Homo sapiens: one gene and its partners. The protein of the gene in region 7 purifies or fractionates together with the protein of the main gene of each other region. This does not show direct contact. Each region holds a gene or a part of one and is shown on either strand. Other genes may lie near its edges. The genes, in order: SERPINB5, COL10A1, TKT, BCAT2, WDR1, SDF2 and C11orf54.

What was found.
Region 1: the proteins of C11orf54 (region 7) and SERPINB5 fractionate together in Homo sapiens (co-fractionation; one large-scale study listed by BioGRID). This does not show direct contact.
Region 2: the proteins of C11orf54 (region 7) and COL10A1 purify together in Homo sapiens (co-immunoprecipitation; one large-scale study listed by IntAct). This does not show direct contact.
Region 3: the proteins of C11orf54 (region 7) and TKT fractionate together in Homo sapiens (co-fractionation; one large-scale study listed by BioGRID). This does not show direct contact.
Region 4: the proteins of C11orf54 (region 7) and BCAT2 fractionate together in Homo sapiens (co-fractionation; one large-scale study listed by BioGRID). This does not show direct contact.
Region 5: the proteins of C11orf54 (region 7) and WDR1 fractionate together in Homo sapiens (co-fractionation; one large-scale study listed by BioGRID). This does not show direct contact.
Region 6: the proteins of C11orf54 (region 7) and SDF2 fractionate together in Homo sapiens (co-fractionation; one large-scale study listed by BioGRID). This does not show direct contact.

Annotation. Positions count from the first base shown.
Region 1 is NC_000018.10:63,496,797-63,501,262, forward strand, and holds part of SERPINB5 (serpin B5), read left to right. Parts: intron 1-145; exon of another isoform or gene 146-707; intron 708-2,323; coding exon 2,324-2,491; intron 2,492-4,466. UniProt on the Homo sapiens protein: Tumor suppressor. It blocks the growth, invasion, and metastatic properties of mammary tumors.
Region 2 is NC_000006.12:116,120,771-116,124,098, forward strand, and holds part of COL10A1 (collagen alpha-1(X) chain precursor), read right to left. Parts: intron 1,192-3,328; coding exon 1-1,191.
Region 3 is NC_000003.12:53,231,766-53,236,231, reverse strand, and holds part of TKT (transketolase), read left to right. Parts: intron 1-1,057; coding exon 1,058-1,249; intron 1,250-2,957; coding exon 2,958-3,076; intron 3,077-4,466. UniProt on the Homo sapiens protein: Catalyzes the transfer of a two-carbon ketol group from a ketose donor to an aldose acceptor, via a covalent intermediate with the cofactor thiamine pyrophosphate.
Region 4 is NC_000019.10:48,797,270-48,801,468, forward strand, and holds part of BCAT2 (branched-chain-amino-acid aminotransferase, mitochondrial isoform a precursor), read right to left. Parts: intron 3,029-4,199; coding exon 2,918-3,028; intron 2,832-2,917; coding exon 2,712-2,831; intron 2,570-2,711; coding exon 2,406-2,569; intron 65-2,405; coding exon 1-64. UniProt on the Homo sapiens protein: Catalyzes the first reaction in the catabolism of the essential branched chain amino acids leucine, isoleucine, and valine. May also function as a transporter of branched chain alpha-keto acids.
Region 5 is NC_000004.12:10,078,226-10,082,691, forward strand, and holds part of WDR1 (WD repeat-containing protein 1), read right to left. Parts: intron 3,220-4,466; coding exon 3,132-3,219; intron 777-3,131; coding exon 666-776; intron 468-665; exon of another isoform or gene 386-467; intron 1-385.
Region 6 is NC_000017.11:28,647,608-28,652,634, reverse strand, and holds the end of SDF2 (stromal cell-derived factor 2 precursor), read left to right. Parts: intron 1-1,092; coding exon of another isoform or gene 1,093-1,149; intron 1,150-3,358; coding exon 3,359-3,646; 3' UTR 3,647-4,289; downstream 4,290-5,027.
Region 7 is NC_000011.10:93,748,119-93,752,584, forward strand, and holds part of C11orf54 (ester hydrolase C11orf54), read left to right. Parts: intron 1-2,227; coding exon 2,228-2,326; intron 2,327-4,466. UniProt on the Homo sapiens protein: Exhibits ester hydrolase activity on the substrate p-nitrophenyl acetate, in vitro. Regulates DNA damage and repair by regulating HIF1A degradation via chaperone-mediated autophagy (CMA).

The DNA of each region.
Region 1 (4,466 bases), on a different chromosome or scaffold from region 7:
TGAATTAATTTTCCTTCAGGAAATCAGTCATCTCTGGAGCAGAGACAGGAGGCCAGGTGTTAATAGGAGCAAAGAGAAGAAAAGGCCTGGGCAGTGCTTGGACATAAAAGACCTGAACGATCAGACCCTTCCATGGGCTCCCTTTAAGAAGAGCAGGGAGAGACCAAGGGCTAAAGTTGGGAGACTGAGAAAATGCAGCCCACCGGGGCATTACTTATTTCTCCAGCTCTGATCCGCTGTTGTACTAGGGGTCTAATCCGGCCTGTGTCTGCCTCCTTCTTGAATAGCCCAGAGCATTCATCTAAACAGCCTTCCTACAGCAGCTCCCCACTTTAGGTGTGGCCAGACAGGAGTTCTAGACCAGGTTGTCTCCTGGGACATTGACACCGCAGCCAAGTTTATTGGTGCTGAGGCAGACACAGTTGGTGTGGTTGGTTCAGGGGCTAGCATTGGAATAGCGTTTGGCAGCTTGATCATTGGTTATTCCAGGAACCCATCTCTCAAGCAGCAGCTCTTCTCCTATGCGATTCTGGGCTTTGCCCTGTCTGAGGCCATGGGGCTCTTCTGTTTGATGGTCGCCTTCCTTATCCTCTTCGCCATGTGAAGCTCTGTGGGGGTCACCTGCCTGTCCCTGCTGCTGCGGCTGCACACCATTCTTGGTGCTGGGCTGTGCTAAGCTTTACCATTGAACACAACGTTTCTGAAAAAAAAAAAAAAAGAGCCAAGCATACAGTGGAGCTCAAAGGGACTTAGAGATAATTTTAAAAAGACTTAGAGATAATTTTAAAGAACATTTTCCTTTTTAAAAATTATGCAATACTCCAAGCATTCAGAAAATGATAGAGAATAATAAAACGAACACCCATATACCGATCAATCATCTTTTTGAACTTAATATTTTGCCTTAATTATTTCAGATATTTTAAAGAAAAAATATAACAACAGTTGCATTGCTTTGTATGTATCCCTTCACTGCTCACTCCACTGTCCTGTTCCTCTTTCTTCCTCCCCAGTGGTAACCATTATTCTGAATTTACAATTTCTTCATTCTACTGACAAGAATACTGAGGCCTGGAGAGATTGAGTGATTTGCTCAAGGCCACAGAATCTGTTTATGTCACATTTGGGACTAAAAACCAAGGTTCTTATCTTCAATTTAGACTTTGTTAATTAGCTCAGATCTGAGTAGGTGGCAGTACAGTGGGGAGTGGGCAATTCAAACCAAAGACAAACAGAGAGGTCACAACAAATATTGTTTTGTTCTGCTATGTGCTAAGTTTGTTGTTGTTATTGTTCTGTTTTGTTTTGAGATGGAGTCTCGCTCTGTTGCCCAGGCTGGAGTGAGTGCAGTGGTATGATCTTGGCTCACACCAACTTCTGGCTCCCAGGCTCAAGCAATTCTCCTCCCTCAGTTTCCCAAGAAGCTGAGATTACAGGCGTGTGCCACCATGCCTGGCTGACTTTTGTATTTTTTAGTAGAGACAAGGTTTCACCATGTTGGCCAGGCTGGTCTTGAACTCCTGACCTCAAGTGGTCTCCCAAGGTGCAGGATTACAGGCATGAGGCACCGTGCCCAGCCAGTTTTTGAAATTAGGCATTTTATTAGGAAAAGCCGTATAAATGGTTATGTGGGTTTGCAGTAGAATTTACTTTCAAGTCAGCTCCACCAGGAATAGTTTAAAGATCTCATAGGCATCTGTAAAGAATAACAAACGTTGCCTATATTTACAGCCATACAGTCTTATTTTTAAGGTTTGATCTATGCAAATACAGTATTATATATACTTCATGTAATGTGTAACATGTAGATTATAAAGTATATGAATAACTTTTCAAAGGAACACAAACTCTTCACAGGACAGTCTCTGGTTTCAGTGCAATACAGTTTGGATCTGAGTGGATGATGAATTATAAGCCATAATAATCTGACACTGTGTCAAGAGCAAATTTGTGTATATATATATATGTACATATATATTTATGTGTTTGCCTATATATGTGTATATATGTGCATGTGTGTATATATGTATGGGGTATATATATATAGTATGTATATATAAGTGTGTATATATAGGTGTGTGTATATGTATATGTATGTATATGTATGTATGCATATATATGTATATGTGTATATATAGGTGTATGTATATATGTATGTGTATCTGTATATATATAGGTGTAGGTATATATGTATGTGTGTCTGTATATATACATGTGGGTATATATGTGTGTGTGTGTGCGCGCGTGTGTGTATATATATATATATATATATTTATGCATGTGTAAATTGAAAAGTAAGCAGTCCAAATTTTCCCTTTTACAGACAGACACCAAACCAGTGCAGATGATGAACATGGAGGCCACGTTCTGTATGGGAAACATTGACAGTATCAATTGTAAGATCATAGAGCTTCCTTTTCAAAATAAGCATCTCAGCATGTTCATCCTACTACCCAAGGATGTGGAGGATGAGTCCACAGGCTTGGAGAAGGTAAGGAGAAGGCAGGTGCTCTCCACAAAGGCACCCCCTGCCTTGGCAAAGAGTTGTGCCAACAGGTCTGTGTGGGCCGTGAGAGCTGGGCCGGTAGCCCTCCCTTATTGCCACTGGCTCAGTCACCTCCAAGGACCCATGGTTCTTTCTGGGGCCTTTCCTCCTTAATATTAACAACAGCCAAAATTTATTTGGCACTTACAGTGTTCTAGGGACTGTGCTAAGTTGCCTACGTGCATTATCTCATTTAATTCTTACAGCAGGCTGATGAGTTAGAGACTGTTACCACACTCTTGTTTACCAGTGAGGGAGCTGAGGCACAGAGGGGTGGGTAACTGGTTACATAATTAGTCAAGGGTGTGTGCAGGATCAGGATTTGGGCCCAGGTAGTTGGAGCCAGGTTCTTAACTGAAGGCTAGAGTGTCTCCCTCACCTCCTAGGCAGTTAAGGCACTACGTTGCTACGCACTGCCAGGTCCACTATCATGTGACCTGATGTCAAGCATCCTCTCTCTTGCTCTTTCTTTTTTTTTAAAATTAGTAGATGTTATTTTTAGAGTAGATCTATGCCTACAGAAAAATAAGCAGAAAGTACAAGGAGTTCCCATATACTCCCCTTCCCGTCCCAGGCCTACAGTTTCACCTGTTATTAGCATCTTGCATTAGTTTGGTATGTTTGTTACAATTGATGAGCCAATACTGACATATTACTATTATTATTATTATTATTATTATTATTGTTTTAGAGACAGGGTCTTGCTCCATTGCCCAGGCTGGAGTGCAGTGGCATGATGGTAGCTCACTCTAACCTCAAACTCCTGGGCAGGCTGGAGTGCAGTGGCATGATGGTAGCTCACTCTAACCTCAAACTCCTGGGCTCAAGTGATCCTCCTGCCTCAGCCTCCCAAGTAGCTGGGACTAAAGGCACACAGCACTATGCCTGGCTTTTTTTTTTTTTGTAAAGGTGGGATCTCACTGTGTTGTCCAGGCTGGTCTTGAAATCCTGGCCTCAAGCAATCCTCAGCCTCAGCCTCCTGAAGTGCTAGGATTATAGGCATGAGCCACCACACCTGGCCTTCACAATTTACGTTACGGTTCACTCTTTGTGTTGTACATTTATGAGATTTTAATACGTACACATATATGCTTCAAAATTTTGAATTATGCAGATACTATTTTATAGTACACATTATATATAAGTATTTTATTTTATATGATAAGGGTTATTATATTATTTTATTTATATAGATTTTTAAGGCACAAAGTTTAAATAAGAGTAGCAGTTTTCTCTGCAGGTGAATGGAGTTTTAGCTTCCTCTCTGCTCCCTCACCTCTGCTTAGCTGGCTGAGGCCTGTTCTCCCTTTAGTCCCTCCCTGGCTTCCATTCTAGCTCCACCCCGCCTGGCCTCAACCCTTGGCCAGGAAGGAAGAAGGGGCTCTTTGAAGGCCTGGATCACTTGCTATATATCCACATGGGCCTCAGTGATTTGCTGACTTTCCAGGGGACCATCCAGTCTCCAGCTTGCTCCTTTGGTTGCCATTATGTTTTAGCCACCACTTTATTAACTGAATTATAATTCCTGTCCTTCTTCTTCTTTGGTGCATTACTCTCTCTGTTTTTTTTCTTTCCATTTTATGCTTTGATCTTTCAGCCATTATCCAGCTGTCTTGGATTTTACCTTTCGTTCTTAAAACGCCCTCCAATAAACATCAATTATTTTCTTCTTCTTCTTCTTTTTTTATTTCAATAATTTATTTTTCTTTTTTTTAATTATACATTAAGTTTTAGGGTACATGTGCACAATGTGCAGGTTTGTTACATGTATATACATGTGCCATGTTGGTGTGCTGCACCCATTAAGTTGTCATTTATATTAGGTATATCTCCCAATGCTATCCCTCCCCCCTCCCCCCACCCCACAACAGGCCCTGGTGTGTGGTGTTCCCCTTCCTGTTTCCAGGTGTTCTCATGGTTC
Region 2 (3,328 bases), on a different chromosome or scaffold from region 7:
CTGGTATTCCAGGGGCACCTCTTGGGCCAGCCTCTCCATTGTGTCCGGGCATTCCCTTTGCTCCTGCTGGGCCCACAGGGCCTGGGAGACCAGGAGGTCCTCCAACTCCAGGATCACCTTTTGGACCTGGTAACCCTGGGTTACCCTTAGGACCATCGAGACCTGGTTTTCCTGGGTACCCTGGTTTTCCATCTGACCCAGGGGAACCCCTTTCACCCTTAGCCCCAGGGTATCCTGCAGGCCCAGCTGGCCCTGTCTCACCTTTAGGGCCTGGGAGACCATGGCTACCCGGGATGCCTTTTGGTCCTTGGGGTCCCATATTCCCAGGGGGTCCAGTCAGACCTGGCTTCCCAGGAAGACCTGCTGGCCCTTGTTCCCCTTTGGCACCTGGACCCCCAGGAAGGCCAGCAGGTCCTCTTTCTCCCTTCAGGCCTGGCAAGCCTGGTTTCCCAAAGCCAGGAGGCCCTGGGGGCCCAGCTATTCCTGGAGCCCCAGGGAGACCTTTTGTTCCTGGAATCCCTGGCTGGCCTGGGGCTCCAGCAGCTCCTGGCTTTCCAATGCCTTCTGGCCCTCGTTCCCCAGGAGGGCCTTGGGGACCTGGTGGGCCAATTGGTCCCATTTCTCCCGGAAAACCTCTATCACCTTTGATGCCTGGCTGTCCTGGAACCCCATTTTCACCTCTTTTTCCCACTCCAGGAGGGCCAGATGGTCCTGTGGGACCCTGAGGGCCTGGAAGACCCCTCTCACCTGGACGACCAGGAGCACCATATCCCATTTCCCCTTTCTGTCCATTCATACCAGGGACTCCTGGTGCACCCTTTTCTCCAGGAAAGCCCCTGGGTCCTGGGGCTCCTGTGGGTCCCTGTTGTCCAGGTTTTCCTGGCACAGAAATTCCAGCCGGTCCAGGGATTCCAGGTGGTCCTGGTGGGCCCCGGGGTCCTGGTAGGCCAGCTGGTCCAACATCTCCTTTTGGTCCATATGGTCCTCTCTCTCCTGGTTTTCCTGGGAGTCCTGGCACACCTGGTTTCCCTACAGCTGATGGTCCCGGTGGTCCTGGCAACCCTGGCTCTCCTTGGAGTCCAGGACTTCCGTAGCCTGGTTTTCCTGGTGGTCCAGAAGGACCTGGGTGCCCTCGAGGTCCAGCAGGGCCTGGTGGACCAGGAGTACCTTGCTCTCCTCTTACTGCTATACCTAAAAGACACACCCAACACACCCACCCATAGAAGGGGATGGTTAGTGACATTAAAGAGAATCATTGCCTTTCAAACTATGAATTGGGACACGATATTTCAGCATCATTTATTCCATGTAGACAGAACAGTCTGAAATGGTTTTAGATTATATGTTTTATACTGTTTTAAAAAATTCTGCTGGAGAAGATGGTTTCACAAAACCATGGCTACCATAATACTTTTATCCCATGACAGTGATTCATGAAAATGAGCTAGGATTGAAGAATTCCTCTAGAATAAGTGCAGTGGAGGTAAATTTAGTACATTTATTTTGGGAAAATCATGTACAGAAAAGGCAGAAAAAGACAGTGCAGAATAAGTGAGAAAATGTTTAAGAACTATAAAAATTTTCCCTCCCAAAGCTACCCTGTCAGACATAAAAGAGAAACAGAATTAATTCTGATTTACATCTGCCATGCCTCTGCTGAACACAGGTTAGATTTTGGTTGATTTACTTTTACCTCAGAATATACTCTGAGCTCTTATACTCTCCATTATTGACTTAAAATTGAAACAAAGAACTAGAGAATTAGACATAATAGGTGAGGTACATAAAATAGTATTAAAGTTCTTACCTAAATACAAATATATAGTGTTTGATTTCATAGAGCTGTGAGTTCACTTGACCTGATAAACTAAACTTAAACTAAAAATCATAGTGCCTGTGATGTGAAAAATGCGGCTGGGCCACAAGTATGGGGAAAGCACAGGGTACAGATGTTTCTGAGATTTGGAAAACATTTGGTGTATATAAATGCAGAGCGAATCATTAAAATAGATATGCCGAAATAGGAAAATAATTGTTTCAGATTTAGATTTTTTTTTACTAATTAGAGTTATATTTCAATTTGAAAACATTGATTAATATAAATACATAGAGCTTTCCCCATGGATTTTCAGAAAATGACATCAGGAAAAAGACTGTGAGAAAAATTTATGTAAAAGATTTCCGTATATTAAATATTTCATTGATTGTAGTGTACATACATGATTATATTATGTATAAGTGGATATTGATATATTGCAAATAGAGGAATAAATAAGGAATTTTTTAATGGGTTGGAGGAATAAAATAGTGGATTTTTTAAAATGCCAACTATGTTAGATTGAGCTTTGCTTTAGAATCTGATTATAAGGGTCATGTTCACACTAAAAATAATTGTCTTAGTCTGATTGGAAATCTGTTTTACTATTAAAAAGGAGAAACAAGTCAATGGAAATGAGTGCATTGGGCGTCATCCGAGACTGGAACTCCAGTGACAGGGCGAACTTTGTCACTTGGAATGTTGTCCTAATGGGTCTCAACTTCTCAGTGCGAGAAAGAATTTGGCTTCTATTGAATGCTTGGGGGACAGCCCCTGTTTGTAGGTTGTCATCTGAAAAAATTTTCTTCATTCAAGATTAGGGTGGCACAATCCTCAAGGTAAAACGACTACTTCCTTCTATTAAGTTTTTTAAATGCCACAAACTGAAATCGTGATTGGTTGTGTCAGAATGTGGCACGTGCATCTGCCCACCAGCTGTGGAATCCTCTGCAGCATAATTTAGTATGTTTTGACAGAACTCTTTTTTAACCTGTGTTGGATGGATATGCCTAGGAATTATGTAATAACTCTTTGAATTCCTGTTTCAACTTAATGTCTTACTTGTATAGACTGTGGGCTTTTGTGTTTGTTATGGTGCATTAATGTCTGCCAATGGATGATAGTGTAGTTGAGTGTCTATCTAAAAAGAGACTAAGGTGGATTTAGTAGTTTAAATACAGCTTCTGAACTTTTCATTTGTTAAGATATTTTCATTTGTTCTGCAAAAGTAGCCAAGATAATGGTGTATATTAAGAGAAGATCAAAGTATTTTTAACCTTCTAAAATAGTGCATTTTCTTTTTAATTCAAGACTTTGTTATGCTCTTATTAAGGTGTTAAAAAGTCTGATTTTTGTGATCATGGAAACTATTGAATCCAGTGCTGTTTGTCATAGCATTTCAAATTGTGTTTGTTGCTTCAAGTAAAGCGGAAGGTTGCTTTGTCTTTTATTTTTTTCTTTACTAGCCTTTAAATTTTAAAATTTTTATTTATATTTTGAGACATTCAAAAG
Region 3 (4,466 bases), on a different chromosome or scaffold from region 7:
TTCCTGCAGGAGCAGGAGGGCAGCCATGTCCCCTCTGAGCCCAACCAGGCACCAGCCTCATTTCCTAGGGCTACACAGCTAGACACTGGGCAGGGTAAGGGGAGGTCCCCAAGTCCTACCACTCCTCACCCTACTTGCATGCCTGCACGGCAAGGAGCGGACAGTCTAGGCTACAGTCAGACCTGCGTTTGAATCCTGGCTCAGCAACTTCCTGACAGCGCGACCTTCAGACAAGTCCTGTCTGTTGCTGCCGTCCCTCTGCTACCCCCATCCCCTCACATCTCCCAGGCCGGGAACGTTCTGTTTGCTGGGTAATTTATCCCAAGTTCAGTGTTCTTTTTAACGTCTCACTGTCTTGAAAAGATCACAGTTGCCTGTGTTGAGGGGAGGAGAGGGCCCCTGTGGTAGAGAAAGAGCCAGGTGCAGCTTCAGTCTTGGGGTCAAGAGCTAGTCTTGGAAGCTTGGGGAGAGCCTGTCCCAGGAAGCGCCTGGTCCTCAAGTGCCCTCTGCTCTATCCTCCCCAGAGCCCTCTTGCTCCAGGGTGTTGCCTAGAGTGCCTCAGGCCTCCTTGGCCCACCTCCCTCCTCCGGGCAGAAGCAGAGCTTGGTTCCCAAGGTTCCCCTTTCCCACTGGCCCACCCAGCCAGTCCCAAGGCCTCCTCCAACCTCTGGTTCACAGCGGGGTCTGTCCCCTGCAGCAGGTGGCTCAAGCCTATTCACCCACCCTTCCTCACTTTCCTCTCATTCCAACAACCCCCATTTTTCTAGATCTTATTAGCCAGATCCCTGTTGTCCTAGACCTCTGTTTCTTAACAACCAGTACTTCTTCCTGAGCTCCTGACGTCTTCCTTCATGCCATTTTCTCTTGGGGTGTGGCTTGTGGTAGGCTGCAGGAACCTGGTGACACTGTTGCCCCTCGAGTGTAAATGCCATCTGTTCTGCATATCCATGCGTGGCTGCTCCTTTACCCAGAATGCAGGCTCCTTGGATGGGTGGGGGGGTGGGAGCCAGCTGGGTCCAGGTGAGAGGGACTGGCCTGATTCACTCTCTGTCCACAGCTACCGAGTCTATTGCTTGCTGGGAGACGGGGAGCTGTCAGAGGGCTCTGTATGGGAGGCCATGGCCTTCGCCAGCATCTATAAGCTGGACAACCTTGTGGCCATTCTAGACATCAATCGCCTGGGCCAGAGTGACCCGGCCCCACTGCAGCACCAGATGGACATCTACCAGAAGCGGTGCGAGGCCTTCGGGTATGTACGAGGCTGTGGCCTGAGTGTGGTCACAGCACGGGAGAGTGGTCTGTGATCACAGCTTTGCAGGTGCAGGTGCAGGAGCTGAAGCTGGGACCTTAAGCACCATCTAAAGGTCCCTTTCTTTAGCATTTGACTCACAATTTCAAACTCTAGGCATTTGGACTTAATGGCTCAGGATATGTGGGCCAGGCCCAGTTTTAAGTGAGTTTCCTTGTTTTCGTGGTTGTGGCATGGTGGCTCTCGGAGCTTCCACACACCATCTCACGTCAGCTCGCTTTGTTCTTGAGGAAGGAGGGTTCTTGAGGGATGGGGGCTTGCTCGGTAAAGCTAAAGGATGTATAGCTGCGGAGAGGTTTGAACCTCAGTTTGGTGGCCACGTCCTGTGCCCAGCCCCGCCCAGCCTGGGGAGGAGGAACAGGCTCCTGGTGAAATGGGAGATAGGGTTTCCAGATGCCCCCCTTCGGCCTTGATTGGTTACAAATTCAGGGTCAAAGGGCACAAAGCAGGGAGGTCAATCTGCATGGGTGTCAGCCAGAGGGGCTCCACCTCAAAGCCTCCACCGGTGTTGCCAAACACAAGCTGCTCTGCACAGGGGCCCAGCATTGGCTGAGGAGGCTGTGGAGGGGAGGGAGCAGGGCAGGTGCCGTGCAAGGCTTTGAGACTCAGGTCAGGCCTCCAGGACTGCGTTTTGCGGATGAACCCATGCCTGTGACTACACTAAGTAACAGGATGCTTGGGGTTACCTTGCAGTAGCACAGCATACGCAGGCCTGTGTTCCCTGATGACTGACCTCAGAAAGGGAGAGGAGGAAGGGAGGAAATAATCTCTGTTGGACAGGCGAGGAAACTGAGCCACAGGGTCCTCACCCCACAGGCCTCCCCAAGGCCACATCTATCTGGGGACTCAGAGTACAACCCCAGCAGCACCCCCAGGACCTGTGTCCATAACCTCGTGACTCAAGCCAGATTCCTGAAGTCCTGGCTCCACCGCTAACTTGCTTTGTGGCGTGGGTCACGTTACTTACTCCACCTTCGGTGTCTCAGTTGATTTGTCTGTACAATGGGGCCAGCTCAGCACCCAAGCATGGCGTGGTGAGGCTTCAGTGGGCTAATATGGGTAGTGGTTGGCATGGCACTCAGTTTGAGAAGTGCTATTTTTATTCTTATGTCAAAAAGAGTCCCCAAAAGGATAGCTTTTCAAGAGAAAGGGTGCTCTGCCCCAGCTCCTTCCTGTATATTTGACTCCATGGTTCATTTCAAAAACATTTCCAGCACCACATCCAGCATCTGTGGAGTGATCAAATGTGTTCCCCAAATAAGAATTGGGCCAAAAAATTCATCAAGAATCTAATAGCAGACAGATTCCAAACCCAGTGCGCTGACCCCAGAACAGCTTTCAGTAGGAAATGAGCAGATCAGGAATGAAAGAGACAATAAAGGAACTGAGCTCTGGATTACTTAAGAGGAGGAGGAAAACCTGTTCAGAGGCAAACAAAAGGAAGTAAAATAATGTGAAAAAGAAAAGGATTTAAAAAACCCAAACTGGAAACAGGAATGTTGCAAGCTTTCTACTACTCCAGCTGAGGCCGCAGTTGTGGGGTGGAGCCTGGGCAGACCCCAGCTGCCAAGGCAGACCTTTCCCTGGAAGGCTCCTCGGTGTTGTGGCCCCTGGGAATTGCCCCTTACTCTCTGCCCCCTGTCCCCAGTTGGCATGCCATCATCGTGGATGGACACAGCGTGGAGGAGCTGTGCAAGGCCTTTGGCCAGGCCAAGCACCAGCCAACAGCCATCATTGCCAAGACCTTCAAGGGCCGAGGGATCACGGGTCAGTATGCACAAGCCGCCCTCCCCACCTTCACCCCTCGCCCAGACACTGTGGCTACGTAGCTCTGACCCGCACATCCAGGGAAACAGCCCTTGCTGCTCACTGAGCTCACCAGGCTCCAGGGAAGGGGAGCGGGAGATGCTGTGACTCAGTGACCCCTGTGGCTGAGCCAGGATTTAAACTCAGATCCGTCTGGCCTCTGCCGGTGGGGGCATGTACAGGCAGGAGGAGAGGAGGGACTTGGAGGGTCTGTGGGTGAGAGGAAGGTCGTGGAGTGAGGCAGCCCCCGTGCCCCACCCTGGCTGGTGCCTTTCAGAGCTGCAGCTGTGTGTGCTCTGCCAGCTCCGGCCACCTGCTCCAGCTGAAGGGCCGACACAGAGCCAGGCAGGGCCCGGAGAGAACTGTTCCCTCCAGGAGGTGAGTGGGGTACTCCTCAAGCAATGGCAGATGCTGAGCAAGGCCTGTGTGGGCCAAGAGCCTTGGGGGGTTTGGAACCTGGGTTCTGCCCCAGGCCGGAGAATGAGGCAGGCGTAAGTCACTCCCTGGCACCCAGGTGTGGGCTTCAGATTCCTAGGCCTGGGATGGCCTCACCCATTTTAAAGATGGGAAAATGAGACTACAAGTGGTCAGGGACTTGCCCGGGGACAGAGGAAGTCTATGGCACGAGGGGGGCTGATCCCAGGGCCTGGGTCGGCTTCCCTGCCAAATGCCCCTGGCTGCCCACCTGCCTGCTCTCAGGGGTTGTGGCTTGTTCTGCCCATGTAGACTCAGGTATATGAGGATGTTCTGAGTGGGGGTTTGGCAGTGCTGGGAGGTGTCTGGGAGGGGGTGGATGTCGAGGAAAGGGCTCTGGGATATTGTCATGGCTTTGGTGCTGCTGCCTGGCACTGCCCTCTGGTGTTAAAAATGGGCAGGATCTGGACCACTTGCAGCTTCTTGGGGGCTCCTGCTAGTCTTTCGGGCTGCTGGGTGCTACCTGGGAGTTCAGTCTGTTCTTGGCTCTGGCCAGACTCTAGTGACTACTGAGGTGACCTCCAGGGAGAGGGATATTCAGCCTTCCTGGCCGCACACAACAAGGTGCCATGGGGTGGGCATGCCTAGGTGCTTATAGACTCCTCTGCTGCTCACAGATGCATTGGGTGACCCTGGAAGCCCTGTTCTGGGCCTTGGGTTCCCCTTCTGATGGCCAGGGTCCCTTCCAACCCAGTCGACAAACTGAGTATTTCTGCAGCAGACACCTCTACCTGTGTGTGACCCTGCAGGCGGGGTTGTGGGGAGGAAGAGAATGGACACATTGGTGAAGGGATGGGGCAGTGGGCCCAGAAACACACACCTGCCCACGTCTGGCCCCTCCTTTCCCACTCAGCTGTGAGCTCCCAAAGGACCAGGC
Region 4 (4,199 bases), on a different chromosome or scaffold from region 7:
GAGGACCTGTTCACAGCCCCGCTTGAGTGCCTCCTGTTGCACTAACACGGTGGGCCCATAATTCCTGGTGGAGGGCAGTCTGGTTGGGTGGGGCAAGGGAGCCCCATCCTTCCCCAGCCCAGCCCCAGAGGAGGCTCATCCTACTCTCTCCCGTCTCCCTGCTCACAGCTCTCACAGGGCTCCCCAGTTCCCCTGAGATGGAATCCTTGACTTTTCATTTGGCATCAGGACCCTAAATGGTTATGTCCCCTCTCTCCTGTCTCTTCCCACTTTTCTTTCTTTTCTTTTCTTTTTTTTTTAAGACGGAGTCTCGCTCTGTCACCCAGGCTGGAGTGCAGTGGTGCGATCTTGGCTCACTGCAACCTCCGCCTCCCAGGTTCAAGAGATTCTCCTGCCTCAGCCTCTCTTGACCTGGTGATCTGCCCGCCTCAGCCTCCCAAAGTGCTGGGATTACAGGCGTGAGCCACCGCGCCCAGCCCTCACCCATTTCATACTGACCAAATCCTCAGCTGTCATTCAAAACCATTTCTTTTTTTCTTTTTTTCTTTTTTTTTTTTTTGAGACAGAGTCTTGCTCTGTCGCCCAGGCTGAGGCTAGAGTGCAGTGGTGCGATCTCAGCTCACTGCAACCTCCGCCTCTCGGGTCCAAGCGATTCTCGTGCCTCAGCCTCCTGAGTAACTGGAGTAACTGGGGCATGCAGCACCATGTCCGGCTAATTTATATTCACATTTATATTTATATGCCCGCCTCAGCCCCCCAAAGTGCTGGGATTACAAGAGTGAGCCACAGCGCCCGGCCTTACTTTTTATATTTTTAGTAGAGACGGGGTTTCACCATGTTGGCCAGGCTGGTCTCAAACTCCTGACCTCAAGTGATCCGCCTACCTCGGCCTCCCAAAGTGCTGGGATTACAAGCGTGAGCTACCGCGCCTGGCTCCAAAACCGTTTCTGTTGTCACCTCCTCGAGAGGTGTTTCCAGACCTCCAGGCTGGGTGCTGGACCTTCCCTGGACTCCCCCAGTGAACTGGGCTACCTGGATGACTTTCTGAGTCTCTCTCCCAGAGATAGCCTCTCCCCTCAGCTGCTAACAAGCCTCCCATGGCTCCCCAGTGCCCCAGGACAAGACCCTAGCCTCCTTCCGGCATTCCAGGCCTGCCTGGGTCTAATGAATACTTGCTAAGCATTTTTCAAAACCCAAACTTATTTTTGTAACCTGAACATCTTCTGTGATCCTATTCCTTCTGTCCCTGTACACATGGTTCCCAGGACTGGAAACAGTTTGCTGACTTTTGTACCCAGGAAACCCCCTCCTCCCTCCTCGTCAGACCTAGTTGAAGGGTCGCCTCCTCTGCGAAACCTTTCTTTTTTTTTTTTGAGATGGAGTTTCGCTCTGTCGCCCAGGCTGGAGTGCAGTGGCGCGATCTCGGCTCACTGCAAGCTCTGTCTCCTGGGTTCTCGCCATTGTCCTGCCTCAGCCTCCTGAGTAGCTGCGACTACAGGCGCCCGCCACCAAGCCCGGCTAATTTTTTTTTTTTTTTTTTGTATTTTTAGTAGAGATGGGGTTTCACTGTGTTAATCAGGATGGTCTCGATCTCCTGACCTCGTGATCTGCCCGCCTCAGCCTCCCAAAGTGCTGGGATTACAGGCGTGAGCCACCGCCTCTGGCCTCTGTGAAGGCTTTCACAATGCCCTGGGTCACCTCACCAGAGAACATGCAGCTCCGAATACTGGGGCTCCCACCAGCCTGGGAGACCCAGGAGAGCAGGGCTCGGGGCTGACTCATCTGTGTCCCCAGCTTCTGCCAGCACAGGGCCTGGCCCTCAGGAGACCTCACAGGATGTGGCTGAAAGGACCTGAATGCACCCCCAGCTGGGGCCACATTCCTGTCCCAACACGCCAGTGCCCACCCTCTGCCTTGGTTGCCCAGGAGACCCAGCTGTCTCCTTCCTGCCCTGCTGAGCTGAGGCCACTGGGAGACAGATTTACACAGAAAGTCCACACGGGGGTGAGGGGCTTTGGAGGCTCAAACGACTGTGGGAGCTGGGTATGGGGAGCGCAGCCCAGCCTGGGGGATCAGGGGAGGCTTCTGGGGCGAGAAGCCAATGAGCTGAGTGTAAGCTTCACTCCTGGAGGCTTCCAGGGACCAGTCCTGGTTTCCCCACTGACCTCCACCCAATGCCTTCCCATCTGTGAGCCTTTTTGTCCATCTGAAAAATAATCCCCTCCTCCTTCCTTCCATGGTTTGTTTTCAGGGACCAGGGAGGTCACTTAGCACTGAGCCCTGCACGGTGCTGATGATGTCACCTTCATGTGACATCCAGAGGCATGGCCGAAAGCACGCACGCTGGTCCCTGTGTCTCCAACGCCCAGTGCGCCAGTCGTTCTGGGGATGGGGGTGCTACTTACCCACCTAACTTGTAGTTGCCGACCCCGCCCACCCAGGCCCGGATGAAGGCTGGGTCGGCCAGGAGGGAGACCGGGGTCACGGAGCCTCCAGGGAAGTAGGCACCCACTGGGCAGAGAATGACGAACAGGAGCGCGCGCGTGGGCTGGCTGACACCCAGCGAGGGCTGCGACGGGCAAAGGGACAGCGTCAGGAGTCCAGGCCCCCAGTCCCTTCCCGTCCCCAGGCCCAGGCCTCCAGGACCCCACCCCTGCCCTGCAGAATCCAACCCCCGCAGCCCAGCTTCCCAGCCCTGGAGTTGGGCCCACCTCGTTCCCAATGAGCACAGGCCGCACATAGAGGCTGGTGCCGGCGGCATCGGGGACCCAGTCCTTGTCCACTTCGATGAGCCGGCGGATGCACTCCAGCAACTCCAGCTTGTCGAAACTCTGGGTGGGATTCTGAATGAGTCAAGGGGCCCTTGCTGCCCCGGCCCCAGCCCTCCTCCCCACCCCGGTGGACCGGGACCCCTCACCGGCAGGCACAGGCGCATGGCTGAGCGCAGCATCCGGTCCATGTTGAGCCAGGGGCGGAAGAGGCGCACCTGCTGGTCTTTGCCTTTGAACGCCTTCATGCCCTCAAACAGCTGCGGGGACACGCGGGTGGGGAGGCTCAGAGACTTCTCCAGACAGTCATGAGAGACACCAAGACAGACAGAGACAGATACACAAAGACACAGACAACTGAAAGATGGAGGCCAAGAGGAGAGCACCGGGGAGATTTAGCAGCTGGGTCAGAGAGATGGAGAAAAAGAGAGACAGATATAGACAGGGAGACAAACAGGTAGAGACACACGGAGACTCTAGAAAGCAAAGGACACGACCGGGCTCAGTGGCTCACTGTAATCCCAGCACTTTGGGAGGCCGAGGCAGGAGGATCACTTGAGTGTAGGAGTTCGTGACCAGCCCAGGCATTATAGCAAGACCCCATCTCTACCAAAAAATACGAAAATTAGCCAGACGTGGTAGCACGTGACTGGAGTCCCAGGTATTTGGAAGGTGGTGGGAGGATCACTTGAGCCTGGGAGTTTGAGACTGCAGTGAGCCACGATCATGCCACTGCACTCCAGCCTGGGACCTAGTTTTTTTTTTCTGGAGACTCTGTCCCTGATCACTGCCCCATGGTTCCAAGTTTGCTTGTTCAGCATCTGCTCCACTGCAGAGTGGAAGAGCCTGGAAGGCAGGGATTACCCTTGACACGTTTACCAGACAGCCTCTCCTGCAGTCCCATGCACCAGGGTAGGCAGCGCTTGGCACAGAGTGTTTTTTTGTTTTGTTTTGTTTTGTTTTGTTTTGAGACAGGGTCTCACTCTGTCACCCAGGCTGGAGTGCAGTGGCGTGATCTCTGCTGATTGCAACCTCCGCCTCCCAGGTCCAAGTGATTCTTGTGCCTCGGCCTCCTGGGTAGCTGGGATTACAGGCGCCCACCACCACGCCCAGCTAATTTTTGTATTTTTAGTTGATCCACCCGCCTCAGCCTCCCAAAGTGCTAGGATTACAGGGGTGAGCCACTGCACCCAGCCAGACTTTTTTTTTTTTTCCCATAGTGGGTTTTTGATGAATGAATAGATAAATGAATGGAAGACAAGCAAAACTAGCTACAATATTTTGGGGGGATAAAAACCACCACCACAAAAATGAGGGGCAAGATGGGGCAGGGGCAGGGAGTAGCCATATCAGGTAGTAAAACATTATAAATCTACAATACTTAAAACAGAGTGACACTGCTATATGAGTGGACAGACTGAATAATGGAAT
Region 5 (4,466 bases), on a different chromosome or scaffold from region 7:
CACATAGACCCACCCAGCCCCTAGCATGGAGGGCACTGCCACGCCTGCTGCAGGACTGGGTTATCAGAGGGCTGCCCTCCTGGGCTGGAGAGGGGAAATGAGCTCTTCTACAGAGCACTCAGGACTTGGCCAGGCACACTGTGACCAGACCACACACACAAATTCAAGGGCATGAGAATTATGCCGAGGCAGAACTCAAGGGAAACTGTAAAATGTCTGGTTAGTACCGCACCTTGAAGATGCTGGGAAACTTCTGTCACTCTTCCTTCAACCTGTGAGCCGAGCCCAGCCCCAGGGGATGCCATTCCTTGATTTCCTGACCTGCTACCCTCTTGCGCTCCCCTCCTGCCGCCACTCATGGGGCTGGCTCTGAGGCACAGCTGTGCCCTCCTCGGCACTCCCTCTACCTCACTGTCCACAGTCTTGTGGGCACCCGGGCAGTGAGGTGGGGGAAGTGCCGAGGAGGGGAGGGGAAGGCTCCAGCCCTGGGTGGCAGGAGATGGCGTGGCTGGGCCCCAGAGCAGGTCCCACGCCCCGACTGCCCCCATCCTTCCCCTGACCCCTCGCCTTCCCTGAGACAGCCCCGGTACTCACACAGCTCACACTGTCCCCAAATCACCCAGATACCAAGGACAGAGAGCACGGGGGAGAGGAAAGCGACTTACCACACCCCCAATTGCCACCGTGTCCCCGCCGGGGTGCACTGCCACAACTTCGGGCTCGTAGCCGGGGTTGTCGATGCTGAAGCACTTCCTCTGATCCTTCAGCAGGACAATCTGTGGCACACACAGGCAGCTGGTCAGGCGGTCCAGCCCTTCGGGACAAAACCCTCAGTGGTAGGAGGGGCGCGTCCCTGTCGGGGCTCACTGGAGCTGGGTTTGGCTCCATACCCAACCTCTTTGCAGGGCCACCTGGGGCTCTGAGCCACACCACCTGGACTCATGTCCCGTTTGACAGTTGCTCTAGCCAGTCAGGTGGGGCAGGAAACACAACTAACTGTGACCATTACTGTCATCACTACATTACTTCCAAGGCAGTCACCACAGCACCACCTCTTGGAAAGTCACTTGGCCTCGATGGGAATCAACGTTCAGGGTAAGAAAGGTACTAACAACAGTAAACAAAAACAGCGACAGCCCCTAGGCACGTGCCAGCGCTCTGCTGTGAGTGTTCCAGCCCCACAAGGCAGGGATCGGGTTCCCCGTTTCAGAGAAGAAAATGGGGTACGGTGCTTATGCTGCACGCCCAAGGCTCCAGTTCCCACAGGCTGAGCCGGGACTCGCCCAGAATCCAAGCCTCGGCACCCGCACTGGGCCTTTGCCTCTGGTACATGCAGCAGAGGCTCTGCAGCGGGGGCCTTCCTTCCATCTCCCTTCCTTGTCAATTCTTCCGGTTCTAACTTACTCAACTGCTCCCAGACAGTGGCCTTCATCTCTGAGTTTTGCCTTTATCCCAGTGTGCCCCTACCCAAGCCACCAGCTGTCATGAGGGAAGGCAGCCTCTGCCCCTACCGTCTGGGCTTCTGTTTCTGCGTGGATTGTGGGTGGATCGCGATGAATGGTAGCAGCACCCTGACTAAAACCTACTACTGAAGAGGCACCTCTGTCATCTGCCCGGCTCTGGAGGTGGCCTTACCTACTCACAGGTGAAGAATGAGGGCCTAAGCATTTGCCTGAAGCTTCGTCCGACATGAGACTTGAACCTGGTTGTTTCCTGATCTAAAATCCCAGGCCCCTCCTAGCACCCTCCTAACTCTTTGACTGGTGACAGGGAGCTCTGCAGAAAATTCTGACCCAGAGCAGGGGTTCCAGATGCCCTGGGAGGATCAGGTAACAGCAGATCACAGAGAAATGCCACATGAGGAGGTGCAGAGACCTGGAGCCTGTCCCCTGCACACCACAACCCTACCGGGGTCCTTTCTAACCTCCTGGGCAGCAGGCGCCAGCTGGGCCAGTCTGAACATCCTCTCAGCCTCAGGGGAAAGGGTGGCCTATGATGACCACAACTTTACAGATGAGGAAACCTGGGTCTGGAGACACAGGGCACGCTGCCCTAGGCCTCATCCCCTCACCCACAAAGCCCCATGTGCAGACCCCTTGGCTGGGAAGAGCCCTGCTGTGCAGAGATAGGCCACCTGCCAGCCTTCTAGAACTCCGCTTTGTAGCGTTTCCCCCAGGCCCCGAGGCGCTCCATGTGTGGATTCCCTTTGCACCTCCCCACCCCCACTGGCTGTCCAGGCTGTTTGCAATAATTACTTGGCAGGGATTTCTTATTATCTAGGACACAGAGAAATCCACTGTCCCTAACGCAATTAAGTTCACAAGGCAAAGGAGGGCCAGAGGGTGCTGAAAGCAGCTTTCTTTAGCAGGGCTCGCCACTCGTGCCAACAGGTGCCCCTTGACTTCCCCGGTCTACATGCCAGCAAGCCTAGGCCCGCCAACAGATAATATCTTCTGCAGGGCAGAATTCTGTATAAAGTGGGTCAGGCTTGGGTCTCAGGTGGCTTTGGTCCAGATATTCCAAAGGTGTGCAGGTGGCCCCACTGTCTGGGGTTAGAAGCCAGGCCGGGAAGTCAGGTGCCACCCTTCTGCATGTGGGAAAGTACCAAGCTGCTCTAGGCCTCAGCCTCCTCATCTGTAAGAGGAACCAAGATGGTGTAAGGAGACTTACATGTACTTCCTCATAATCACCTGGATCTGTGAGTGCTGGGGATGGGAAACTAAGGCTCAGAGAGGGTGAGGTAAATGCCGGAGGTCACACAGCTACAATGCAGCAGGGCTGGGATGTGAACAGGAGCAAAGGCAGGCCCACCCCACAGGGTATCTCATAGACTTTACAGGCTGACAGGCAGGCAGCGTGGTCTGAGGCTTAGAGACAAATCCCAGCTCTGCCCTCCGACCAGCTGCGGCCTTGGACAACCAATTTATCCATTCCGTGCCTCCATTTCTTCATCTGTACAACTGATGTGATGGTGGTGAGGATTAAATATGTGAGATCCCTTAGTGCAGTGCAAATGAGCACTCAACCAAAACACTGGCTAGAGCAACTGTCAAACGGGACATGAGTCAAATTCAGCAAGCAGGCACCACACAGCTGCAGGCTCCCACCCAAACACTAAGCCAGGTCCCTACCTGTCCAATGCACACGACCACGGCGTATCCCCCGGGGCCGACGGCTACGCACTTTGGCTGAACGTCCAGTTTCACAACTCCTTGTCCGCTGTTAGAGAGAAAGGAAGCACATTACTTCGACAATGCAGCAGCTCAGGGTAGGTATGCATACATATTTACTGTTAAACCACAGTTTTGCTCCTTAGAAGGCAATTCTATTGCCACCTATACTGGAGAGACTTGCTAAAATATGGGATGGTAGCGAAAAAACGATCCATGACTCTGGTGCAAAGAGATTATAAGTCATAATGGGGGCCCGGGGAGGGGTGGGGGGGGGGGAAGGAGGGGCGGGAGGCGGTGAAAGGCGTTGATTATGCTCCTATTTATCTGTGGTAAGCCCTCATTACACCCAGATGTGGCTTTTGTCCCCCTGTCTGTTGGCTAAAGACTGGAGTTTACTGAGCACAGACAGAATTGAGCTCTGCTCCCCAAAATGGATGGGTAACTTTTAAGAATCCGTTACCTTTAATGGGTGAAAATCATGTTATTTTTAGCCTTGGCCAATGCTATCAAAACTTGTTCTAGAAAGACTCATACACACAAACTTCTTGAAAACTGAGATAATCAAGGAAATTTCTGTGTCACTCGGCCAAGTGTGGCATCCCCAAAGGCTCTGCAGCAAGGTCACCAGGCCAAGGCTGGCTCTGTAAGGGCCTTGCCTTGGGTTATCTGGCCCAGGGAAGACCCTTTTATGGGACGTGTTAAGAGTGGGGTCACCACAGGGCAGTAGAAAGAGGACCAGGGCCCAGATGCCTGGGCTCTGGGGCCGCTTCTGCCACTCATCGGGAGGCCCAATTTACCTACAGATGCCCAGTCTGCCAGGCAGGCAGGGCCTGTGTTACCTACAAGGACGGCACACCTGCTAGGAGTTGCGTGCTGCACCCTGTGCCAGGCTCCCATCAACAGGCCCCAGGAGTCCCCATCTCCCAGGCAACACGACTTAGGCAGGACTACCGGGTGACAAAGGGGTCTACACAAGAAATGTAGGGCCAGAGGAGGGGTCAGACCTGGGCATGGGGACACTGGATGTGCAGTGGCCTCGTCAGGTCCTGGAACATTTCTCTTTCAAGTCCCTCCAACTGCATTTAGGACTTCAGATCACTTGCAAACTGCTACTCTCCTAGCTCCACTGACTGCCAATCAAAGGCCCAAGACCAAAAACAAACAAGACATTGTCTTTTAACCAGATCACTGTGTGCCCATCTCACCCTTGAGCAGAAGGGGAATGCTGTCTTGTACTCAGCACCTGCCCTGTGCCAGGCTCACCTAATCCACAACAGCCTGAGGCAGGCTCCA
Region 6 (5,027 bases), on a different chromosome or scaffold from region 7:
TCTCACTTGACAGAATAAATAACTGTAAGCCAGGCGCAGTGGCTCACACCTATAATCCCGGCACTTTGTGAGGCAGAGGTGGGTGGATCACAAGGTCAGGAGTTCGAGACCAGCCTGGCTAACATGGTGAAACCCCGTATCTACTAAAGTACAAAAATTAGCTGGGCATGGTGGCGGGAGCCTGTGATCCCAGCTACTTGGGAGGCCGAGGTAGGAGAATCGTTTGAACCTGGGAGGCGGAGGTTGCAGTGAGCCGAGATTGCACCATTGCATTCCAGCCTGGGTGACAGGGCGAGACTCTGTCTCAAAAAAAAATTAAAAAAATAAAGAATTGTTACCTGTGTGTGCTTACTCGTGTATATATTACATATCTATAAATTTTTATTTGCATAGCCATCTGTATCTACATATATTAAGTTAAATGAGCTTTCTTTTTCTTTTTCTTTTTTTTTTAAGATGGGTTCTTGCTGTGTTATTCAGGCTGGAGTGCAGTGGCTACTCACAGGTGTGATGATAGTGCACTAGAGCCTCGAACTCCTTGGCTCAAGCAGTCCTCTTGCGTCAGCCTTCCAAGTAGCTGGGGATACAGGCATGCCCCACTGTGCCTGGCTAGTGTTCTTATTGATGTCTTTAGCTGTAATCCATTACCACATAGATCGTCCTAGCCTCCTCCCTGTGCTAATTTGTAAATTCCCACTCCAACAGTAAGATACCTTGTTCCTACCATCTGCCATCCATGTATTGAACTTCAGTTCAGTTCCAGTATACAAATATAGCAGTATCAGAATTACATACTGGTACCCTCCTGGGAACAATTTTATCAAGTAGAGTGTACACACACACACACACACACACTTCTGAAATAATCAGTAATTTTTTAATTGCCATCGTATAGAAACTGAATATTTGGCCTTAAGGAAGATGGGATTTAGATGAGGAGTAGAATATAGAGAACTTGCTTTCTCTCTCACTGCCTTATTAGAAAGAAAGAAAAGAATGTAGAAAACTTGCTATGTTTTGCTCAGTTAATATTTGCTATCTCATTTAATTCTCACAGTTGCTCTGTAAGGTGATATTGTGATCATTTTATAGAGGAGAAAACAAAGGCTCAAAGGATTTACAGAAGAAGGGATCAAGTTGAGATTCAAGGTCAGCCTGACTCCCAGAGTCCATTCCCTTTTGAACTTGTCATCAGGTCATTTAAAATCTAGTTAAGAGAATGAAGCAGTAATATTTAAAGTCAAATAACAAGAGATATAAAGTATTTTAAGGGCAGAATGTGGTGGCTCATGCCTGTACTCCCAGCACTTTACTACGCTGAGGTAGGTGGATCACTTGAGGCTGGGAGTTTGAGACCAGCCTGGTCAACATGGTGAAACCCCCATCTCTATTAAAAAATACCAAAATTAGCTGGGTGTGGTAGCACATGCCTGTAATCCCAGCTATTCTGGAGGCTGAGGCATGAGAACCCAAGAGGTGGAGGTTGCAGAGAGCCGAGATTGTGCCATTGCACTCCAGCCTGGGCGACAGAGCGAGATGCTGTCTCAAAAAAGTAAAGTATTTTAAAGCCAGCACGGTGGCTCACACCTGTAATCCCAGCACCCTAAAAGACCAAGTGGGGAGAATCGTTTAAGTCCAGGAGTTAGAGGCCAGCCAAGGCAACACAGTTGCCTACCAAAAAACTTTTAATTACCTGGGTGTGGTGGTATATGCCTGTTGTCTTAGCTACTCAGGAGGTGAGGCCATAAGACCACTTGAGGCACTGCACTCCAGCCTGGGCAACAGAGCAAGATACCCTAACTGTTTTTTTTTTTTTTTTTTTTTTTTTTTTGAGACAAAGTCTCACTCTTGTCATCCAGGCTGGAGTCCAGTGGTGCAATCTCGGCTCACTGCAACCTTCGGCTCACGGCAACCTCCGCCTCCCAGGTTCAAGCGATTCTCCTGCTTCAGCCTCCCGAATAGCTGGGATTACAGGCGCCTGCCACCACACCTGGCTAATTTTTGTATTTTTAGTAGAGATGGGGTTTTACCATGTTGGCCAGGCTGGTCTTGAACTCCTGACCTCAGGCGATCTGCCCGCCTCGCCCTCCCAAATTACTGGGATTACAGGCATGAGCTACCGTACCTGGCCACAATCCCAACTCTTAAAAAGAAAAAAAAAAGAAATTCTGTTTTAACACTGTAATAGAAAATATAAGGCAATTATAGTATTAATTGCAAAATAAGTGTTTGGACCATAATCTTTTTTTTTTCCTTTCTTTTTGATGCCATGACTCAGATAAGAACCATGGACCATAATCTTATAGCAATGAATTTTTTTCCTCCTATGTCCTTTATGTCTTTCGTCTTTTTCCATGGTTCATGGTTTAAACAACACTGGAGTGGCCGGGCACGGTGGCTCATGCCTGTAATCCCAGCACTTTGGGAGGCTGAGGCGGGAGGATCACCTGAGGTTGGGAATTCGAAACCAGCCTGACCAACATGGAGAAACCCTGTCTCTACTAAAAATACAAAATTAGCCGGGCATGGTGGCACATGCCTGTAATCCCAGCTACTAGGGAGGCTGAGGCAGGAAAATCACTTGAACCTGGGAGGCGGAGGTTGTGGTGAGCCGAGATTGCGCCATTGCACTCCAGCCTGGGCAACAAGAGCGATACTCTGTCTCAAAATAAATAAATAAATAAATAAATAAAATAACAACACTGGAAAGCAGCTGAATTTTTTTTTTTTTTTTGAGATGGGGTCTTGCTCTGTAATCCAAGCTGGAGTGCAGTGGTATGATCACAGCTCATTGCAGCCTTGATCCCCTGGACTTAGGTGATAGCTGTAGTAGCTGGGTACCATAGGCATGTGCCACCATGCCCAGCTAATTTCTTTTTTTTTTTTCTTTTTTTTTTTTTGAGACAGAGTTTTGCTCTTGTTGCCCAGGCTGGAGTGCAATGGTGTGATCTCGGCTCACCGCAACCTCCGCCTCCCGGGTTCAAGCGATTCTCCTGCCTCAGCCTCCCGAGTAGCTGGGATTACAGGCATGTGCCACCACACCCAGCTAATTTTGTATTTTTAGTAGAGACAGGGTTTCTCCATGTCGGTCAGGCTGGTCTTGAACTCCTGACCTCAGCTAATTTCTTTTGTATTTTTTTTAGGGATAGCGTTTCACCATGTTGCCCAGGCTGGTCTCAAACTCTTGGGCTCAAGTGATCTGCCCTGCTCAGCTTCCCAAAGTGGTAGGATTACAGGCATAAGCCTGGCCCCTCTGATTTTTTACTTCAAGGTGGCCTTCTTTTTCTTCCCATTGCCTCCCACCCCTTTTCAAGCCCTTGTCAGCCATGCTGATGTTACTACCTTCTGTATTTTCTAGGAAGTGAGTGCTTTTGGTGAGGAAGGTGAAGGTGATTATCTGGATGACTGGACAGTGCTCTGTAATGGACCCTACTGGGTGAGAGATGGTGAGGTGCGGTTCAAACACTCTTCCACTGAGGTACTGCTGTCTGTCACAGGAGAACAATATGGTCGACCTATCAGTGGGCAAAAAGAGGTGCATGGCATGGCCCAGCCAAGTCAGAACAACTACTGGAAAGCCATGGAAGGCATCTTCATGAAGCCCAGTGAGTTGTTGAAGGCAGAAGCCCACCATGCAGAGCTGTGAATCTAGAGGCTCTGAGCCACTGTTAACGCACAATGTTCACAGACATCTGTTGCTGCCTCACCTTGGGATCCCTGCCACAAGTTCCTTGGGCAGTGGCCATGTCACCATTGAGATGAAGATATACAACAGAAAATAGTGGCTGTGTTTGGAAGCTTCAGCCCTGCACATTTGAACTAGTCACTCTCCCAGACTTGCGTGGGTCAGTTCTTTCTGAGTAGAGGACTTGCTGGTAAAGGGGCAGATGCTTTTTATTAGTACTGATAAAACAAACTGAGGGAAACATCCCTCTTAGCTGGGAAACTTTTACTCTTCAGGAGCTTGGCATCATGGACTGTTAATGTATGTGATTTTCCCCCTATTTTCTCTCTCCAAAATGATAAAAACAATAATTTTATTATGAGTCACTGTGTTGTTATTTATTAGGTGTGCTATTTCATTAGCTGCTTAATCCTTTGAGTCCTAAGACTCTTTGGAGACGCTATGAAGCTCCAATGTGGGCCCTTTTAAGAGCTTTTCTTGCATACAAACCTTTTCTCCCTCTACTTTGACTTCTCTCCAGGCATCTCATCTTTAATAGATCTTTGACTAATTATAGCTAAAAACTCTCAGAGAATACAGCATAATAAATAGCCAGTGAAATGTTTGCTTTGTATCTGTTACTGCAGATGAGAAAAAGGTGTAGGGGTAGAAAGAACGAACCAGTATTTATTCACTGCTAAATACTAGGTACCATATTATAGATCTTTTTTTTTATTTATTGTTTTTTAGACAGAGTCTCGGTCTGTCGCCCAGGCTGGAGTGCAGTGGCGCGATCTCGGCTCACTGCAAGTTCCACCTCCTGGGTTCACAACCATCCTCCTGCCTCAGCCTCCCAAGTAGCCGGTGCTACAGGCACCCGCCACCACGCCAGGGTAATTTTTTTGTATTTTTAGTAGAGACAGGGTTTCACTGTATTAACTAGGATGGTCTCGATCTCCTGACCTCATGATCCGCCCGCCTCAGCCTCCCAAAGTGCTGAGATTACAGGCGTGAGCCACCGCACCCGGCCTATAGATCTTACCTCATTTAATCTTCACAGAATTCATATAGGGTAATACTGCATTTTTATCAGTGCAGCAGTTGAGTAACTGCCTGAATTCTTTTTTTTTTTTTTTTTTGAGACAAGTTCTTTGCTCTGTCACCTAGGTGGGAGGGGCACAATCATGGCTTATTACAGCCTTGACCTCCTGGGCTCAAGTTGATCCTCCTGTGTCAGTTTTTGATTTATCGTAGAGATGAGGTCTCACTATGTTACCCAGGCTGGTCTGGAACTCCTGGGCTCAAGTGATCCTTATGCTGTGTCTTCCCAAAGTGCTGGGGATTACAGGAGTGAGCCACCATG
Region 7 (4,466 bases):
TTCATTTGTCATCCTGATAAGATTGAAGTTAAGAAATAGACTCATTTTTGCTTTGTTGTAACTTTCCTCTTATAATCTTTTTTTTTTTCCCTAATTGAATGGTAGCTAATAAACAATCTGTATTGTTTGGCCTGTATTTCTTTTTCATCAGTCTGTCTTCCCTAATATGACAGGGCAGTTAGGAATTTTTTCTTTTTCTTTTTTCTTTTTGTAGACATAGGATCTTGCTCTGTTGCCCAGGATGCTCTTGAACTCCTGGCCTCACTCGATGCTCCTGCCTCGGCCACCCAAAGTGTTGGGATTACAGGCATGAGCCACCATGCTTGGCCAGATTTTTTCTTTGATTGCTTTTCTAGAATCTGTTTTCACTTTTGTGTTTGTTTCTATTTTCCTTCTATATGTGCAGGATATATTCAGAAAAAGTAGAAATTTTATGGCCTGGCACAGTGGCTCATGCCTGTAATCTCAATACTTTAGGAGGCCAAGGTGGACAGATCACTTGAGGTCAGGAGTTCAAGACCAGCCTGGCCAACATGGCAAAACCCCATCTCTACTAAAAATACAAAAATTAGCTGAGTGTGGTGGTGTGTGCCAGTAATTCCCGCTATTCAGGAGTCTGAGCTACAAGAATCACTTGAACCTGGGAGGCAGAAGTTACGTTGAGCCAAGATCGCGCCACTGTACTTCGACCTGGGCAACAACACGAGACTCAGTCTCAAAAAAAAAAAAAAGAAAGAAAGAAATTGGCAAGGTGCGGTGGCTCATGCCTGTAATCCCGGCACTTTGGGAGGCTGAGGCAGGCAGATCACGAGGTCAGGAGTTCAAGACCAGCCTGGCCAACATGGTGAAACCCTGTCTCTACTAAAAATAGAAAAAATAGCTGGGTGTGGTGGCGGGCGCCTGTAACCCCAGCTACTCGGGAGGCTGAGGCAGGAGAATGGCGTGAACCTGGGAAGCAGAGGTTGCAGTAAGCCGAGATTGCGCCATTGTACTCCAGCCTGGGTGACAGGGTGAGACTCCATCTCAAAAAAAAAAAAAAAAAAAGACATTTTGTAAGAACTTTTGATCCTTAAAAGTACATAGGCTGATGCAGTGGCTCATGCCTATAATTCCAGCATTTTGGGAGGCCAAGGTGAGCAGATCTCTTAAGCCCAGGAGTTTGAGAGCCACCTGGGCAACAAGCCAAAACCCCATTTTTACAGAAAATACAAAAATTAGCCAATCATGGTGGCATCCACCTGTAGTCCCAGCTACTGGGGAGTTTGAGGTGGGAGGATTACTTGAGCCTGGAGATCAAGGCTGAGTGAGCCAAGATCATGCTGCATACCACTGCACTCCAGTCTGGGCGACAGGGTAGGTAAGGCTATCAGAGTGAGACTCTGTCTCAAAAAAAAAAAAAAAAAAAAAAACTGTTGAGGCTAGGTGTGATGGCTCATTGTAATCCCAGCACTTTGGGGGACCCAAGGCAGGAAGATCACATGAGTCCAGGAGTTCGAGACCAGCCTGGGCAATATAGCAAGACCTGGTCTCTACATATAAAAGAAAAAAAGAGAGAGGGAAATACATTGGTCTTACATTAATAACTTTGAGACACCTATGCTTTTTTACATTGTTACTGAGGTATAACTATCTACAGTAAAGTATGCTAATCTTGAGTGTACAGCTTGATGAATGTTAACAATAGTTACACCTATGTAACTACTATCCAGATCAAAATGTAAAATATTTCCAACATCCCAGAAGGCTCCTTTGCACACCTTCCCAGTCAGCCTTGATCCATTGCCTGTTTCTGAGATGCATAAGGTGAAGTAATATTGTATGTAGTGTTTTGTGTCTGGCTGCTTTGTTCAACATATTGTCTGTTACCTTCACTGAAGTTGTTACATGTGATTGCTTACTTTTTAAAAAGTTTAAATGTTTGCATTTCAGTTGGTTTTTGGAATCTTCTCTCAAAAAAGAAGGTAATCCTCACCCTCACACAAGTGCAGGCTGTTTATCTTCAACAGTTGAAAATCACTGTAGAGGAAGTATTTATATATCTTAGTCTACGTTGTATCTTGTGATTATGTCTAATGTCTAATTATATTCATTAATAAGACCATTTCCCCCTTCTTTTTTATTATACAAGTTGAGATTGGGAGTGTGTTGAGAGCCACATACCACTTTTGATACGTGGTAGCCAAGTTTTTACCTAATGTTAAATAATCTTATTCCTTGTCTTTATTAGTTATGCAGAAGGGGTTAAAAGATAACTTTGCTGATGTCCAGGTCTCTGTAGTTGATTGCCCTGATTTGACTAAGGAACCCTTTACCTTTCCTGTAAAAGGTAAGCAATTTTTGCAATTAGCTTTTGTTTTTTAGTCATAATCTTTTTCTGAAACTAGAATTATTTTTAAGGACATCTTAAATTATCTACAAATAAAGGATATTGTCACAACATTTAGGCTAAATTGTGCCAAATTTCTGTGCTCACTCTTCTGATATTGGTTAAATTTCATTTCATACTCTTGTGGAAAAGGATTGTGTTTTATTCACTTATGTAACCTTCACAGATTGTAGAATAGATATCCAATAGGTTAGAATTCTTTGTATCACACGAGAGTTTTGCTTTTAATTGCTCAGACTGTTATGGAAACTGATTTTAATTTTTATGATTTTATTTATTCAAGACCAGAAGGGATCCTAAAAGCCTTGTATTTGAATGATCTGTTAAAACTAATCCTTCAACAAATTTGCCAAGTGAGCATCCACTGTTTGAAGTGAGAAGGAAGGGAAATTAGTATTAGAAGAATAAAATAATTTGTCAGTATGATAGATAGTTAGTTGATGTTTCAGTTTTTACAATAACACCACAAGGTAAGTAGTAGCCCTTGTTTATAGATGAGAAAACTGAAAACGAGAGAGGCTAGATAAGCTCAGTGTAAATCATAACCAGGATTCAAATGCAAGTCTGTTTCCAAAGTCTAACCCCCTCCTGTTATACCCTATTATGATGAGGAATTTGAGGATAAACACTCAAAGTGTTCTTTTTATTATGTAATTAACATCTTTGCTAAAAAGGAGTTTGCCATAGAAATTCTGGACTCTAGTTCTGTCTTAGAACAAACCTGACTTTGAGATAACATTAGCATGAGGGGATTTGAATTGAATGTTTTTTGGGGGCCTTTACAGCTTAAACAATCTTTGATTTTAAGTAGAGCTGTAAATTCTAGAAGGCTTGTGTACCATGTGGCAATTTCTTTTAGCTTCTTCAAAGGATTTAGCATAGTACTTTTTTATAGTTTTTTTTTTTTTTTTTTTTTTTTGAGACAGAGTCTCACTCTGTCACCAGGCTGGAGTTCAGTGGCGCAATCTCAGCTCACTGCAACCTCTGCCTCCCAGGTTCAAGCGATTCTCCAGCCTCAGCCTCCTGAGTAGCTGAGACTACAGGCATGTGCCACCACGCCTGGCTAATTTTTTGTATTTTTAGTAGAGACAGGGTTTCACCGTGTTAGCCAGGATGGTCTCGATCTCCTGACCTCGTGATCCGCCCACCTCGGCCTTCCAAAGTGCTGAGATTACAGGCGTGAGCCACCACGCCCAGCCTTGATTTTTTTAAAAATATGAGTGTAATGTATTTCCCCTGCTAATTAAGTAATTAACTAAAATTAAATAAAGGTCAGGAGACAGAAGAGTACAAGAAAGAAGGAAAAATGGTTAATCTTTTTTTTTTTTTTTTTTTTTTTGTGTGTGTGTGTGTGAGATGGAATCTCGCTCTGTCGCCCAGACTGGAGTGTGGAGTACAGTGGCACAATCTTGGCTCACTGCAATCTCTGCCTCCCGGGTTCAGGCGATTCTCATACCTCACCCTCCCAAGTAGCTAGGATTACAGGTGTGCACCACGACACCTGGCTAATTTTTGTATTTTTAGTAGAGACGGGGTTTCATCATGTTGGCCAGGCTGATCTCGAACTCCCAGTCTCAAGTGATGTGCCCGCCTCGGCCTCCCAAAGTGCTGGGATTACAGGTGTGAGCCATCATGCCCAGCCAAAATGGTTAGTCTTAATTTTGTCATGCAGAGTTATGCTTGGAAGAAGTGTTTTCTGGTCAGTAATTTGTGAGTCTTTAAATTGCAATACTAGAAGCCAGATATGCATCTAATATGTGTATGTATGATCTTTCATAAACATAGGAGTTTAAGACCAAACTGGCCAACATGGTGAAACCCAATCTCTACTAAAAGTACAAAAATTAGCTGGATGCAGTGGTGTGTTAGACATTTTCTACATGAACTGGTCTTGCTAAGATCACCAGTGACCTTAAAATGTTTACTAGTACTATTTAACCTCTCCACGTATTTCATACTGCTTGGCCATTGCTGCCTGACATTCTCCCCTAGGTTCTATCTTCTCTATCCTTGTTTCACCTGTTCTTCCTTTGTGCCTTTCCTTCCTCTTTTCTTCCATATTTTCCTGGTTCCTTTTTCT